Linked DNA regions of Homo sapiens: region 1 is linked to region 2. A link means that fine-mapping ties the variant in region 2 to the expression of a gene that starts in the linked region. Tissue or cell type: whole blood. Region 2 holds a variant in brackets; the other region holds the start of a gene. All regions are shown on one strand. Distances are between the middles of the regions.

Evidence for each region. PIP is the estimated chance that this variant, and not a neighbour inherited with it, causes the effect.
Region 1: it holds the start of IFNGR1, and the variant in region 2 is fine-mapped to the expression of IFNGR1 in whole blood (TOPMed, PIP above 0.99).

Annotation. Positions count from the first base shown.
Region 1 is chr6:137,215,796-137,223,982 of GRCh38, reverse strand. IFNGR1 (interferon gamma receptor 1) reads left to right here and starts at 4,598. Exons shown (of 7, transcript NM_000416.3): 1 at 4,598-4,740. The coding sequence starts at 4,656. RefSeq lists enhancers at 4,128-4,377, 4,228-4,958, 6,399-6,458 and silencers at 4,418-4,647, 4,688-4,907, 5,368-5,417.
Region 2 is chr6:137,261,586-137,269,772 of GRCh38, reverse strand. No RefSeq gene overlaps it. Among named protein-coding and RNA genes, the nearest start is that of IFNGR1, 46 kb to the right of the region's middle. The variant G/T (reference allele first, on the strand shown) is at 4,728.

The DNA.
Region 1 (8,187 bases), 46 kb after region 2:
TTGCCTCATGGTTGCAAACTGCCAAGATCTGCTGCAGATCTAGGCGTCACTGGATCTACATTCAAGGCAAGAAGATTGGAAAAGGGCCAAGGCCAGCAAACTCTCCCATTGCATCTGCCCCTTCTATGAGAAAGGAAAAGTTCTCACAGAATGCTTTCCAATCCTCTTCCCCATTATACACCTGATGACCACCACACACACACATGCCTCACAGACTTCTGCTTGTGTTTCGCTGACCAAAACTACATCATATACCTACACTTAGCTGCCAAAAAGGCTGGGAAAGTGAGTAATGAGCCTGTCTAGCCTCTGCAGTAGGGAGGCAGCAAGATAGAAGGGGACCGAAAAGAGCTGTTAGCAGTCAGCTAATGAGTAGTATCTGCCACAGTCACCACGCAGCATGTGGCATCTACCCTAGGCAGTGCTCTAAGACAAGCCAACTACTAGAATACTTGACTGTCTATGGATAAACATCTTCAAGCCAGGGGTTGGTCTGATACAATCGGATGTCAGCATGAGAGCTAAGAGGAGGGTTGAGTGCAAGGCAAGAGGATAGTGCTTTGTTGAGTACCAGTATGATATCCAAATATCTCTCTAAATTCTTATCAGTGACCCAATTATAGCTTAGCCAGCCATAAATTCAACTATACCTGCTTCAGTCCCACACCTCTTTACAAGCTTGTTTTGTTCATCATATATTTATTTAATAAGTGGCCACAGACATTGGTTCAGCTGCTCAATGCTGACAGTGATGATTCAGGATTACATACAATTGATGATTCAGGATCATCAATATTCCATAAATATTAATGGAGTAATAGGCACTTGGCTAGGTGCTCGGGGTCTGACAGTGAAGAAAACAAATTTATTTTTTAGAGGAAGAGGGAGACTACTGAAACAAAATTTTCTACGTGTGTATATACATATTTTATGTATGCACACACACACGGATGCATTTCATTAAATCTCAGATTAAGTCCCTGTTTACGCACCTATAATCGTGTTGCTCTCCTTGGTAACAATTACTACAATTTCAGTAATTATTTGTGAAATATATATATATATAAAATGCATATATTTAACACATACAATTTATTCATATTTAATTCAAATTTAATAGATATATTAAATTTCCAGTAGAATCTCCAGATAGTAGTAAGTACTATGGAATAAACAAAGTTAAATAAGGGCCAGTGTAAAGGCATGGGTAGAGTGTGAGAGGGCAAGAGTATTGGCTATAATTTACAGACTAATCAGCGGAATTTAAACTATATGCTTCAGTTACAAATCTTCACGCTGTCTCCTTTAAAGGGAAGCTGGCAGACATTTCTGCTTTGGAGAAAAGAGGAAGGAAATGCACTGTGCTCAGAGCCAAAATGCACAGTTTGTTCCACACACACAGGCTCTGTTCTCATTGGATCATATTTCTAGCTTCTTAAATTGTTTTATTTGGCCTATTAACTTGAAAGGCAGGTGAGTATGGTCTTCAAAATGTAGCCTTGCTCCTGAGCAGCAGCACTTCAGTATACACTTGGCTTTGGAATGATCTACGCTCCACCCCAATTTGTTTTCTTCATTTTAAAAACTAATCTGAGGCTCTAGTGGGGACCAACGTATACTTGGATATTCCCCAGCCATTAGGCATTGGAAATTTATCAAGGAAAGCTGGCACCGCTCATTTGTTTCTGTGTTAGCTGTATGAGATTTTTATATGGGATTTTAAAATACAGTTTATTGCTCTTCTTCCTACCTCTCTTATTAGCCGGTGGCCACCCCCATCTTTTAACTTTATTCAGGCTAATTTTACCTTATCCTTCAGGTCACAACATAATGGTAACTTCCTTAAAAAAGAATTTCCCTAAATCCAGACACAGTGGCTCACACCTGTAATCCCAGCATTTTGGGAGCCTGAGGCAGGAGAATCATTTGAGCCCAGGAGTTTGAGACCAGCCTGAGCAACACAGCAAGACCCCAGCTCTATAAAAAATTTAAAAACTAGCCGGGCATAAGGCCAGGCGAGGTGGCTCACTCCTGTAATCCCAGCACTTTGGGAGGCCAAGGTGGGCGGATTGCTTGAGCTCAGGAGTTTGAGATCAGCCTGGGCAACATGGTGAAACCCCATCTCCACAAAAGACACAAAAAAATGCCTGTGGTCCCAGCTACTTGGGAGGCTGAGGTGGAAGGATGGCTTGCGCCCGGGAGGTGGAGGTTGCAGTCAGCTGAGATTGTGCCACTGTACCTCAGCTAGGTGATACAGTCAGACCCTGTCTCAAAAAAAAAAAAAAAAATTAGCCAGGCATGGTGGTGTACACCTGTAGTCCCAGCTATTTGGGAGGCTGGGGCAAGAGGATCATTTGGGCCCAGGAGTTTGAGGCTGCAGTAAGCTATGATCATGCCTCTGCACTGCAGCCTAGACGACAGAGTGAGACCCTGTCTCAAAAGAAAGAAAAAAGAAAAGAAAGACTTTCTTTAAAATGTAGACTAAGTTAAATTCCTGTTTATACTCCTTTAATCTCTTCCCATTGCTCTCCTTGGGAATGATGATCACGATTTCAGTACTTGTGTAATTCCTTGTTTAACAGCTATCTCCCTCAGTAGACAGTAAGCTCCGTGAGGGCAGGGGCCATGTCTGTCTTGCTCAGGTCTTTATCTCTGTGCCTGGTCATGTCAGTCACAGACAGTATCACTTGATAATATTCACCCAATTAATAAATATATTTAGTCTCCAAATGACTAACTAGCAAAGTCTTCAGAAGGATACGTAGGGTGGTGGGTGCTGTGATTGTGAAACTTGCCCAGATCCCTCTCAGGAACAGAAGACTGGGTTCTGTCCCCTTCCTGATGCTAGGAGGGCTGCCAGTAGACACCCTCAACCGTCAGCGTTCCTCTGGGGAATGCCTCCATGAAAGAAATGGACAGCCCCAAAATCATGACAGTTGGTATTCAATGACTAATCAGTGCTGGGCTTTAAGACCCAGCCCCTCATACCAACTCAAGACACCTTTACAAGGCCATCCCAACTCCAGAGCGCCCCTTGGGAGCCTTTACTGGGATGGCATCACAGATCAACTTCTTCCTCCGCTCTGCTTCCTCCACCTCCCCTTCACAGACGTTTATTCCAAGAGCACTCCCTAATCAATCAATGCCTTATACCTTAATCTCGACCTCAGAGTTTACTGCCAGGGTAACCCAGCCTGTGACAAGTACCACAAAAATGTTTACAAACTGGATATCATATTTTGTCCTACTCCATAGACGCCTAAACGGTAAAGATCAGTTATTTATCCTTGCATCCTTACAACGACTAGAAGGTGTCTTTCATATAGTGGACATCAGAAACACATCAAAGGAAATATTCTCCCTAAACTTAGTCTAGATTGAGCTAAATTCTTCTGATTCAAAGTGTGGTCCTGTTGAAAGGGGCACCAGCATCCCCTGTGCATTTTGTCCGAAATACAAAATCTCAAGACCCAACCTGAATTAGAACTACTGAATCCAAATCTGCATTTTATCAAGATCCCCAGATGGTTCACATGTATGTTGAAGTTTGAGAAGTACTGAGCTAAGAGATTTATTAATACAAGTAAAATGATCTGGCTGATAATACCTCTAGTTTATATAGTGTCTTTATAAGGATTTTCCCTCTTTAAAAATTTTCCTTAACACTAGTAATCATGCAGTCTTTCACTCAACAAATACTAATTGAGTGCCAAGTAAAGATGTCAGCTCTACGGAGCTTACATTTTAGAAGGAGAAGAAAACAAATATCAAGGTGTATATTATAGTGTACAGCAAGGTGAAAAGTGCCATGAAAAAACAGTAGGGCGGGGTAAGGAGGAGGAGAAGGTGTGTTGCAATTTAAAATTTTTAACAAAAGTTCATGATACTCAGAGAATTGAAACAGGTGAGATCATTAGACATTCGCATGTTTGAGCACAAGCGCTGAAGGACTTAGCAATGTGGCTGCAGTGGAATAGGAGAGATGCAAAATAACAGACAAACCCAGAGAGGTAAGAGAGCAGACCTCTTCATGAGAGGCTGCCTGATAAACTGATTTGACACTGAATTGCTGAGAAGGTAATGCAAATAGTTTTTTTCTCCAAGAACAAAGTAGTTCTTGGTCAAGCCGATTTGATTTGGGCTGTGGGAATCTGCACAAACCATTTCACTAGCTAAGTCTCAGGTTCCTCAAATGAAAAAGCAGGGACTGGAAATGGCTTTTGAAGTCTCATTCTCTTCTAAAAATGTCAGGCTCCAAGACAACCAGGTGAAGTCCAAGAGTTAGTAAAATAAGGATTGTGGCTCGGCTGTGGCCTAATGCAAACTTGCACAACCCCAGGAAACCGAAAAAAACTGGAAGAAGAATTGCAGAATGGGGTGCCAGGTTGAAAGACCTTAACCTTTGCACTCAAATTCCTCCCACACCCAGAAGTCCAGGTCCCGACCGCACGACGCCGTGCTCACTGCTGGGTGCTGCGCCTGAGTCCGCCTCCTGCGGCTTCCCGGACTTGACCCCGCCCACGCCCTGGTCCCGCCTCCTGCCGACGCCGGCACAGACCCCGGTGACGGAAGTGACGTAAGGCCGGGGCTGGAGGGCAGTGCTGGGCTGGTCCCGCAGGCGCTCGGGGTTGGAGCCAGCGACCGTCGGTAGCAGCATGGCTCTCCTCTTTCTCCTACCCCTTGTCATGCAGGGTGTGAGCAGGGCTGAGATGGGCACCGCGGATCTGGGGCCGTCCTCAGGTACCGTCGTTCGCGGCAGGGCTGCGGCCGGGTCGGGACGAGAGGGAGGGAGGGATCCGCCCCAGCCGGGAAGCCCCGCCCCGCTTCTCCGAGGTCGCCCTAGCCCGGGACCCCTGCGTCGGGCCCTGAGCGGGCGACGGGGACGCGAGGTGGGGTCGCGAGACTGGGGCTCCGTGGTTTGAACTCGTCGGTTGCCTTTCTCCTGCCTCTTCCCTGGTTGCCGCCACAACAAATCACGCCGCTTGTTTTTCCGACTCTTGTAATCCACTTTTAAATACGATTATGCGCTGCAGAAGGACGTTGCTGGTCAATGTGGGACAGCGTGGTCTCAAAGATTATAATATCGTCTTCTTACTGTACCTTTTTTTATGGTTAGATACGCAGATACTCACTAGTATGCTACGGTTGCCTGCAGTGTTCAGTGCAGTGACAGGCTGTACAGGTTCATGACCTAAGAGCAGTAGGCTGTGTCATCTGGGTTTGTCTGGGTTTCTACTGCCCGAAGAAATTGCCTAAGGGGACATTTCTCCATTTCTCAGAACGGATCTCCATCGTTAAGTGACGCATGACTGTGAGTGTCCTGATCAGCATGTGGCATCGTGGTCTCAGTTCGTGGCTTAAATACTTCTTTCTTAGCGGGGGTGGGGGGGGGGACTCAAAGTGCTTAGGGTAGGAAAGTATGCATTATGTCGCCAGCTGAGAAGTAAGTGGCAGCTGAGAAGTAAGTGGCAGTCCGTCTTAGGTCTCAGTCTGGAAGTGGTGGATTGCCGGCACTCACTAGCAGATTTGGCAGTAGGTCTCTTCGTACGGGTTTGTTCTTCGGAGCATTTTATTTCCACCTGCTTATTGACATTTCCTAGAAAACAAATGTTGAGGGTGGCTTTTCTGAAGTGCAGAGTAATTGTGATTACGAGCTCCAGAGAAAACAGTAAACCTTTTCAATTCAGTTTTCTTTTTTTTATTATGATTTATGATTCATAGGGACTTTGAAAGGTCCACGTTTTGGTTCTGTGTTCACAACAATCTTCTGGAGTAGGCGTTATTTGTCTCTCTCTTTATGGACGAGAAATTGAGTTACGGAGAGGCCTGCCCAACTGGCAGAGAGGTCATAGCCACTCAGTGGGGAGCTGCTCAATTTGGCTCCAGAGTCCAAGTTCTTAACTGCTCTTCTAGGCTCTAGTCAGTCATCCACATGGGCAGTTGCAGTACTTTGCGGTAAGAGCTTGCACTTAGGCACAGACTAGTGGAAAGCAAGGCGGGGTGCTTGTCTCTTTTAGGGAAGTCAGTGAAGACTTCACAAAGGTGACCCCAGTGTTGGAACCAGAGGTGCAGAGACTGAGGTGCAGAGGTGTGATAGCATGTTGAATTCGTGGAATATTAAGCGTTCTATTGTAAAGTGTGTGTGAGAGCTTACAAGGGGAGGAGATAGGTTAGGTGGAGAAGTAGGAACCAAATAATGAATTGCCATATTATGTGTACCAGCAAGAAACCTAGCTTTATTAACTTAAGCAAAAAGAGGAATTTATTGTCTCAGAAAAACCAGAGTTAAACAGAAAATTATAGATGCCAGCTGGGTCTCAAGAGGCTAGAACCAGGAACCCAAACTGCTAGGACTCTCCATTTCTTATTTCTGTCTGGGTATTGACAGCTTTCCACACTTGGCAGGAATCATGGATGCTGACAGCTTCTGAGTTTTGACATCTTGCAGCCTCCTCCATTCTAACAAAATGCCAGGGAAAGGCTCTGATTTGCCCAGCTAGGTTCAGGTGCCAGCTTGCATGGGAAGGACATTCTCGTAGAGGGTTGGGTTGGGTTACCAGAAGAAGCGGAATGGCGTGCCTGAAGTACAGGTGTTGAGCCAACAAAATAATACACCCACTATGCCTTGCTGAAGTCAGTCATTATTTACTAATGCTGACATCATTGGATTATCAATTACAAAGGGAAATGATTTTATGCAGGATCAGACATGCCATTTAGAAAGACCAGTCATCTTATAAAATAGTTTGAGGGTAAACACAAGGCCCATTAGGAGGCTGCTGCTTAAGTTGGAGTCGATAAGTAGTTTAAGTGGAGAAGAGGACAGTTAGCAGAACATTTAGAAGGAAGAGTTAGTAGGCCTCTGACTGGATGTCAGCAGAGAAAGAGGATAACGCTAGCGCAGGCATAGCGTTAAAGCAAGTGCCAGGCCCTTCCTTCTGAATACGGGGCCCTATGAGTGCACCGTGTGACCCCTGTGAGTGCACAATTTGCACGTCCTTGTAGCTTGCTCTGGGAGGAGGATTGCCTGTCTGCCTCCCGTGGGAAGATCAACTGCAGCCTTCTATATTCTGCAGAAACTTTTGAATTTGTCTCTGTACCTCTCGTTCTAAAACTGGGGTCACTTTTGTGAAGCCTTTCCTGACTCCCCTAGAAGAGACAAGCACCCCGGCCTTGCTTTTCATTAGTTTCAGTGAGCCCTCTTTTTAAAGTGCATTTCTAACACATTTCTCTAGATTTTTCAGTGCATTTCTCTAGATTTTGTTGTGTTCCCTGTTCTTTTAAAGTTAATTTAAAACACAAAATCTCCAAAGTAGGAAGAAACCAACAATGCTCTGGCTCTTGCTTAGCTTCCCAGCCTTATTCTTACTGTTGCTGGGCTTGACTCTATAGTTGAAGTTCATCTTAGATGAGAGGACCTGGTAAGAACAGGGAAGCAGACAAGTGAATATGGTGATATAGTCAGTCTCCAGGAAATCCAGGTGTTTAGGAATGTATTGTGTTACATTCATGGGCTTTCATTAATACTTCTTAAGTGAAAATAAAATCTGTGTGTGCCACTTAATCAGTAGTATTTCACTCTTCATGCACTTTTACACATAAAAGTAGTATATATTTTTAAGTGAATCAGGGTGTGCCACTGGCTTTCTTCATCCAGATGAGTGTCCCACTCTGAGTAATAGCTGAAGAGCTAGGCTGGACTTCACACCAACTGGAAGGCTCTTCACTGACCTTGTACAGTTTATCAGCTATGCTTCCTACTAATTATCTGACTTTAGGATAAAGCTCTGAGTACTGTTTAAATTTTTCACTATTTCTTTGGATTCTATAGTTATTTCAGAGATTCAAAATACACAGGATAATACTTTTTAATTATATTTATTGAATAGGGTATTAAATTTTCTTTTTCATTTTATTCTGATTCATAATTCACACAGACTTTGAAAGGACCATATTTTGGTTCTATCTAAAAGAAAACCTAGGCTGGGGGCAGTGGCTCATGCCTGTAATCCCAGCACATCGGCGGAAGGATCACTGGAGCCCAGAAGTTCAAGACCAGCCTGGGCAACATGGCAAAACCCATCTCTACAAAAAAATACAAAAATTAACCCTGTGTGGTGGCATGTGCCTGTAGTCCTAGCTACTGGGGAGGCTGAGGTAGGAGGATCACTTGAGCCCAGGAGGTCT
Region 2 (8,187 bases):
CTCCAAGCACCTTTGTGTCAGGGTTTGGCCTCAGCTGCATGCTGGGTACACGAGCCTGAATTTGGGGTTCTATGACATGCTTATGCCAGAAAGCAAGGAAAATACCAGCAGAACACACAGATCCACTTGAAGGTTTTCCGTTGTCAAATGTGACATCTGAGGATGTGAAAACAGTAATGACTACAACTGGTTGAAAAACATTGAATAAAGGCATATTTTATTTTATTGCACTTCACTTTATGATGCTATGCAGATGCGGATGTTTTTTACAAATTGAGGTTTTGTGGCAGCTGTGTGTTAAGCAAGTCTATAGGTGCCAACTTTCCACAACAGGTGCTCATCTCATGTCTCTGTGTCACATTTTGGCAATTATCACAATATTTCAAACTTTTTCATATTTTATCTATTATGGTGATCTGTGATCAGTGATCTTTGATGCTATTATTGTAGTTTTTGGGGGGTGCCATGAACCACGTTCATATAAGATGATGAACTTAATCAATAAATGTATGTTTTACCATGACTGCTCTACCAACCAGCCATTCCTCATCTCTCTCCTGCTTCTCAGGTCTCCCTATTCCCTGAGATACAATAATATTGAAATCAGGTCAGTTAGTAACTCCACAATGGTCTCTATGTGTTCAAGTGAAAATAAAAGTCACACATCTCTCACTTTAAATCCAATTCTAGAAATGATTACATTTAGCATGGAAGGCGTGTTGACAACCAAGGTAGCAGAGTAGCACTTTTACTTTCCAAGAACTTTTCTTTTGCACCAAACTTGACCTTTGCAGCAAACAGCCAACTTGTGAATGCAAAGGAAAAGTTCTTGAAGGAAAGTAAGTGCTACTCGGGTGGACACACAAACGCTAAGTAAAACAGCCCTATTGCTGGTATGGAAAAAGTTTGAGTGGACTCAATAGAAGATCAAGCCAGGCGCAACATTCCCTTAAGCAAAAGCCTAATCCAGAGCAACACCCTAACTTTCTTCAATTCTACGAAGGCTGAGAGAGATGAGTAAGCTGCAGAAGAAAAGTTGGAGCTAACAGAGGTCGGCTCATGAAGCTTAAGGAAGGAAGCCATCTCCATAACATAAAAGTACGAGGTGAGGCAGCAAGTGCTGATGGAGAAGCTGCAGCGTTATCCAGAAAAGCCAGCTAAGATCACTGATGAAGAGGGCAAAAGAAACATATTGTCTGTGGACAAAAAGCAGTCTTATATTAGAAGAAGATGCTCTTCAGAACTTTCATAGCTGGAGAAGAAAAGTCAGTGCCTGGCTTCAAAGCTTCAAGCAATAGCTGACTCTTTTGATTGGGGCTATTGCAGCTAGTGACCTAACATTGTAGCGAATGCTCATTTGCCATTTTGAAAACTCTAGGAAGAATTATGCTAAATCTGCTCTGCCTGCACTCTTTAAGTGGAACAACAAAACCTGGATGACAGCACATCTGTGTATAGCATGAATTGCTGAATATTTTAAGTCCGCTATTGAGACTTAATGCTCAGAAAAAAAAAGATTTCTTTCCAAATATTATCACTCACTGACAGTGCATCTAGTCACTCAAGAGCTCTGACAGAGATGTACAATGAGATGAATGTTATTCAACACAACATCCATTCTGTAGCCAATGAATCAAGGAGTAATTTCAACTTTCAAATCTTATTACTTAAGAAATACATTTCGGCCAGGTGTGGTGGCTCATGCCTGTAATCCCATCACTTTGGGAGGCTGAGGCGGGTGGATCACGAGGTCAAGAGATCGAGACCATCTGGCCAACATGGTGAAACCGCGTCTCTACTAAAAATACAAAGAAGAAGAGCTGGTTGAATGATGCTGTCACCATGAGGAAGTAATCAGGCAAACCTAGAATGTGGAACAATGTATATTCTATGCACATTGTTCTATGGGACAATTACACCAGGTTTTTTCAGTTAAGTCAATGGGAAGGGAAAAGAAGAGGGGAGAGGGGCTTGCTACAGATGTACAAGGGGGCATGACAACTGAATGTAACATGTGAGTCTCGCTTGGATCTTGATTTGGAAAAAAAAATCATCTTAAAAAGACATTTATTGGCCAGGCACAGTAGCTCACATCTGTAATCCCAGCACTTTGGGAGGCTGAGGCGGGCGGATCACCTGAGGTCAGGAGTTCGAGACCAGCCAGACCAATATGATGAAACCCTGTCTCTACTAAAAATACAAAAATTAGCCAGGCGTGGTGGCAGGCGCCTGTAATCTCAGCTACTCGGGAGGCTGAGACAGGAGAATCACTTGAACCTGGGAGGCAGAGGTTGCAGCAAGCCAAGATCACGCCATTACACTCCAGCCTGGGCAACAAGAGCAAAACTCCGTCCAAAAAAAAAAAAAAAAAAACAAGTTTATTAAACAGTCAATGAACTTTGAATATGGATGGACTGGGAATTAGATATTAATTAATTATTGTTATGAATTTAGGTGTGATAGTGGTAACTGGTTATATTTCCCTCTTTTAGGGACACATTGAAATACTAGGTGGTAAGTGCCATTTTGCCTGGAATTTGCTTTAAAATTCTTCAACAAAAAAGGGGTGCAAACAGGTGATTCAAGTGGGCAAAATGTTGATTATTTTAAAATCTGGATGGCTGCTGCTATGGATTGAATATGACTTGTATGTTCCCCACCAAATATTATGTTGAAATTTGATCCCCAGTGTGGTGATGTTGGGATGTGGGGTGCAGTGGGAGGAGTTCAGGTCATGGGTTATGAATGGTTTGGTGCTGTTCTCAGGGTAGTGAGTAAGTTCTCATGCTGTCCCGAGATGGATTGGTTTTGAGGGGATGGATTAGTTCCCAAGGGAGTGTGTTGCTCTAAAGCCAAGAGGCCCCCCAGGTTTGATCCATCTTTGCACCTGCCTGCCTGCCATTTGACCTTCTGCACCATGTTTTGATGGAGCACAAAAGTCCTCACCAGAAGCAGAGCAGATGCCAGCACCATGCTTCTTGCACAGGCTGCAGAACATGAACTAACTCAACCTCTTTCCTTACAAACCACCCAGCCACAGGTACGCCTTTATAGCAACACAAAACAGACTAAGCCAGCAGGAATATGGGGTTTTATCACACTCCTCTCTCCATTTGTGTGTATTTGAAATAAAGAGTTTTTAAGGAAAATGTAAAATTGTATGTGAGGTTAAAAAAGAACTGCTGCTCCTATGATGACGAATTTTGGGTTAATTCACCTGCTGTGAAGAGATGAAAAAAGAAAAAACGAAGACTTCACTTTGCTTCTCCTCTATATTTTTAGCAGTCTTTGGAGATTATTCTTACTGGGGAAGAAATTGCACTGAGTCAAAGGCATTTCCTTCTCAAGTGCTAATACGTTACCACACATTACCTCTTACACAGTTCCCTCCTCAAAGAAACATAAACATAGCATAACAGAAGAGAACAGCCTTTTGCGCCATTTTTCAGACACTGGCTCTCCTTGTCCCCTGAGGTTTTCTTCTTTCTGAGTGCACATTCCAGATGGCTGTGCTTTGAAATCCCACACCTGCTCCAACCCTGATCCTCTCCTAGAAACTCCTCTGAGGAGGCATCTCTGGTCTCCCAACCAGGGTGACCAACTCTCTTCTCTGTCCCTTCGTTTCCTTGCATACCCTCCCCGCAGCACTTAACATGTGATATGAAACGCATTTGTGTCTCTTCCCTGGACCATAAGCTCCCTTAGGGCAGGGACTCAGCCTTTTAAACATTTCTTTCCAGTGTCTAATATCTTCTGGCAAATAGCAGACTCTCAGTAGCTGCCAAATACATGCATGCTCTGGTACTATCTCCTGTAAGCCTCGGTAATCTTAACAAGGTTTCCACTATGAAAAATCTCTGTTCTTAATTTCCTTTATTAAGTATTAAGTTTTGGATGTTTCTGTCTAGCAAAAAGCCTGTACTCTGAACCAATAATTTAATCATCTACCAGTTTTGTTGATTAGAAGATAATACTTGTCTCTCAGGGTTTCTAAGGCGCCGCACCCAGCCAAGAGTTTTTATTCCTTGGCATGTGTCCAGGAAATTTCTAGTTAAGAATAGGCTTATGATAATCCGGTCTAAGATCTAGAAGATTTACAAGTCATAGGAGTTTTAATTTATGGGATTCTGGAAAGTGAACTAGTTGCATAATTTGTATATATATCCATTTTCCTGAACTATTTTTAAAAACATCTTTCTTGACATGTGTCACATACCATAAAATTCAATCATTTAACATATACAATTCAATGTTTTAAAATATATTAATATATTTGTGCAAACATCTCTATAACTTTAGAGCATTTTCATCACCAGCCCTCCTCCAAACACCCTGCTGCCATCACTGCCCATTCTCTCTCCCCTCTTTGGCCCTAGGTGCCCACTAATGTACTTTTTGTCTCTGTAGATTTGCCTACTCTAGACATTTCTCATAAATAAAATCATACAATATGTGATCTTTTATGACTTGCTTTTTTTATTTAGTATTTACAAGGATCATCCATGATGTAGCCTGTGTCAGTACTCCATTCTTTCTTCTGTTGCCAAATCCTATTTCATTGTATAGATATACCTCATTTTGTTGATCCATTCATCAGATGATGAACATTTGGGTTGTTTCCAATATTTGGCCATTATATATGATGCTGCCATGAAAATGGCAAATTAAATTTTTGTGTGGACTTAAATTTCCATCTCTCTTGGACATATATAGCTAAGAGTAGAATT[G/T]CTGGGTCCTGTGGTACCACCATGTTTAACTTTATGAGGAGCTGTCAAGCTGCTTTCCACGGTGGTTGCATCATTTTACATACCCACCAACAATATATGAGGGTTCCAATTTCTCCACATCCTCACCACTTACTATCATTCCTTTTTTAATTACTGTAGCTATCCTAGTGAATGTGGTTTTGATTTGCATTTGCCTAATGTCAAACAGATGTTGAGCATCTTTCCACGTGCTCATTGGCCATTTATATAACTTATTTGGAGAAATGTCTATTCAAATACTTTGCCCTTTTAAAATTGTGTTGTCTTTTCATTGTTAAATTATAAAAGTTCTTTATATATTGTGAATTAAGGCTCTTATCCGATATGTGATTGTCATAGTTAAGAAATCATTGATTAGCCCAAGGTCACAAAGATTTAATCTTGTCTTAGTCTGTTTTCTGCTGCTATAACGGAGTATCACAGACTTGATAATTTATACACAAAAGATTATTTGGCTCACAGTTTTGGAGGCTGGGAAGTCCAAAGGCATGGTGCCAGCATCTGCTTAGCCATCTGGTGAGGGCTTTCTTGTTGCATCACACCATGGCTGAAAGCAGAAAGGCAGGTGACAAATGAGACAGGGAGAAAATGGAGGTCAAACTTATGCTGGAGTCCTCTCCCTCAATAACTAATCCACTACCCTGATAACAGCATTAATCCGTTCACAAGGGCAGAACCCTCATGATCTACACCTCTTAAAGGTCTTACCTCCTAGTACTACCCCAATGGCAATTAAATTTGACCATGAGTTTTGGTGGGACATTCAAACCATAGCAAATCCCATGTTTTCTTTTAAGAGTTTTGTAATTTTAGCTCTTTCATTTCAGTTGTCAGGGAAGCTACAGATTACCTGTCCCTGTGTAAGTTCTCAGTTGAGACAAGCCCCTGTAACAAAAGCAGATCAACAAGAAAAAAACAAACAAGTTTATTAACACATACAGTGAACACCATGCAGGAAAAACCTCAATGAAAAGTAACTCAAAGCAGTTGCTTAGAACTCTGGCTTGTATCGCATCTTCAACAAAGAACAATAAATTTATAGAGAAATGACAGGACAAAGGAAGGCAATTTCCTTTCGGGGTAGGAAACAGTGGGAAAATAACTATATGGGGGTAAACTAATGAAGTAACGTTTGTTTGCAGATTCTTCTGGTGCTTTCTCTGGGTGAATAGAGTCTAGAGTTGTGTCCAGTAAACGAGAATTTATATCCTACCTTGAGGCAGAAAAGGGGAAGACAGCGAGAGCTTTTTCCATTTGCTGCTTCTTAATTGCCTTCAGTCACAAAATAATTGATAATTGTTTTAATATAGTGTGAAATAGTAGTTCAAGTTCATTCTTTTGCATGTAGAGATCCAGTTGTCCCAGCAGCATGTTTGGAAAGACTTCTTTTCCCCATTGGAATTGTCTCGGCAATCTTATCTAAAATAAATTTATATACATGTATATATTTATATACATATATACACATGTATATATGTGTGTGTGTGCAGGATTTTTAAAAAAACTTTTATTGGGGTGTGATTGACATACAAAAAGCTGTACATATTTAATGTATGCAACTTGATGAGTTTGAGGCTAAATATACATCTGTGAAATCATTACCACAATCTAAACATACCCATCACCTCCAAAACAGTTTCCTCCTACCCTCTATATTTATAATTATTTGTGTATGTGTGTGTGTGCATGTGTGTGTGTGTAGTATGTGATAAAACATAAGATCTACCCACTTAGCAAATTTTTAAGATGTAATACAGTTTTGTTAACTATAGGTATTATGTTATACAGTAGATCTCTAGGACTTACTCATCTTTTATAACTGAAACTTTGCAACTTTTGGCTAATAGCTCCCTATATCCCCCTTTCCCCAGCTCCTGACAACCACCATTCTACTCTCTGCTTCTACAAGTTTAACTATTTTAGATTCCTTATGTAAGTGGCATCAAGTAGTACTTGTCTTCCTGTGTCTAACTTGTTTCACTTAGCATAAAGTCCTCTAGGCTTATGCATGTTGTCACAAATGGCAGGATTTCCTTCTTTCTTAGGGCTAAACAATATTCCACTGTATATATATAACACATTTTCTTTACCCATTCATCCATGATGAATATTTAGGTTACTTAGGTTCATGCTGCAATGAACAGGAGTGCAAATGCTCTTTGAAATCCCAATTTCGATTCCTTTAGATATATACCCGGTAGTGGGATTGCTGGATCACATAGTAGTTCTATTTTTAAATTTTTTGAAGACCCTCCATAATGTCTTGCATATGTAGGCTGGCTTCTAGACTGACTGTATTCCATTGATCTATGTGTCTATCCTTATGTCAGTATCATGCTGGCTTGACTACTGTAACTTTGTAGTAAGTTCTGAAGTAAATGTGAGTCCTCCAATTTTGTCCCTCTTTTTAAGGATTCTTTTGATTATTCTGGGTCCCTTGCTTTTCCATATTACTTTTAAAGTGCATATATCTTGTTCTTCTGAAATTATTTCATTTATGTGTTATTTCTGGTTATATCATCCAAGTTTGTTTATTTTTTTCACTCATGATTGCTTTATCTTCATTTCTTTCTCTTTAAGATTTTTAAAAATCTTTCAGACAATGAATTTGGGTTCCAAAGTGACTAGCTTGTCTTTTAATATTTTAGCTAAAAGCATTTTAAATTTGTGTGGTATATGTGTATATTTTGTGACTGAATCTTCTTACATCCTCTTATTACAATTTCATTTAATAAGTGCTTCACCGAAATTTAATTAACATAACATAAAATTCACCCTGATAAAGTGTAAAATTCAGTGTTTTTAGTAAATTCACTCAGCTGTTGAACCATCTAATTCTAGACTGTCTAACTTCAGAACATTTCATAACCCTCCAAAGAAAATCTTGCCATCTTAGTTTTTGAAAATTTTTTGGCAAGCTTCATTCTTGACAACTTCTTCTTTTTTTTACTTTGGTAAAACCACCACCTTGCCTTGAGCTATTTGCTCATTCAAAACTAAAGTTTATTTAGGCCACTTGATATGATTCACCTTGTCTCTAGAGAAATCTTAAAACTTTTTCAAGGAAGTGGTCAATTATTTACATAAACTTGAAAAGGCTTTGCTTCTCATCACTTCAAACACAAGGCTTTGAGAATTACCCATTTGATTTGCTACTTTGCAAATTCACAAATAACTCTATATTTGAACATTTAAATTGTTTGAAGTGTTTGGGGAAACAATTTACTTCCTGGCTCTATATCCTTTTTAGTTATCTCTTCCTTTTATGTAAGAACTGCATTAATAGATGACTTTCAAGAATATTATGAGAAAAAATAGTGAAAGTAATTTAAGCAAAGTATATTCTGTACTCAATTCTACATCAACAATGAACGAACCTCTTGTCCACAACCATTTAAAAACACTCCATTGAACTCAGATG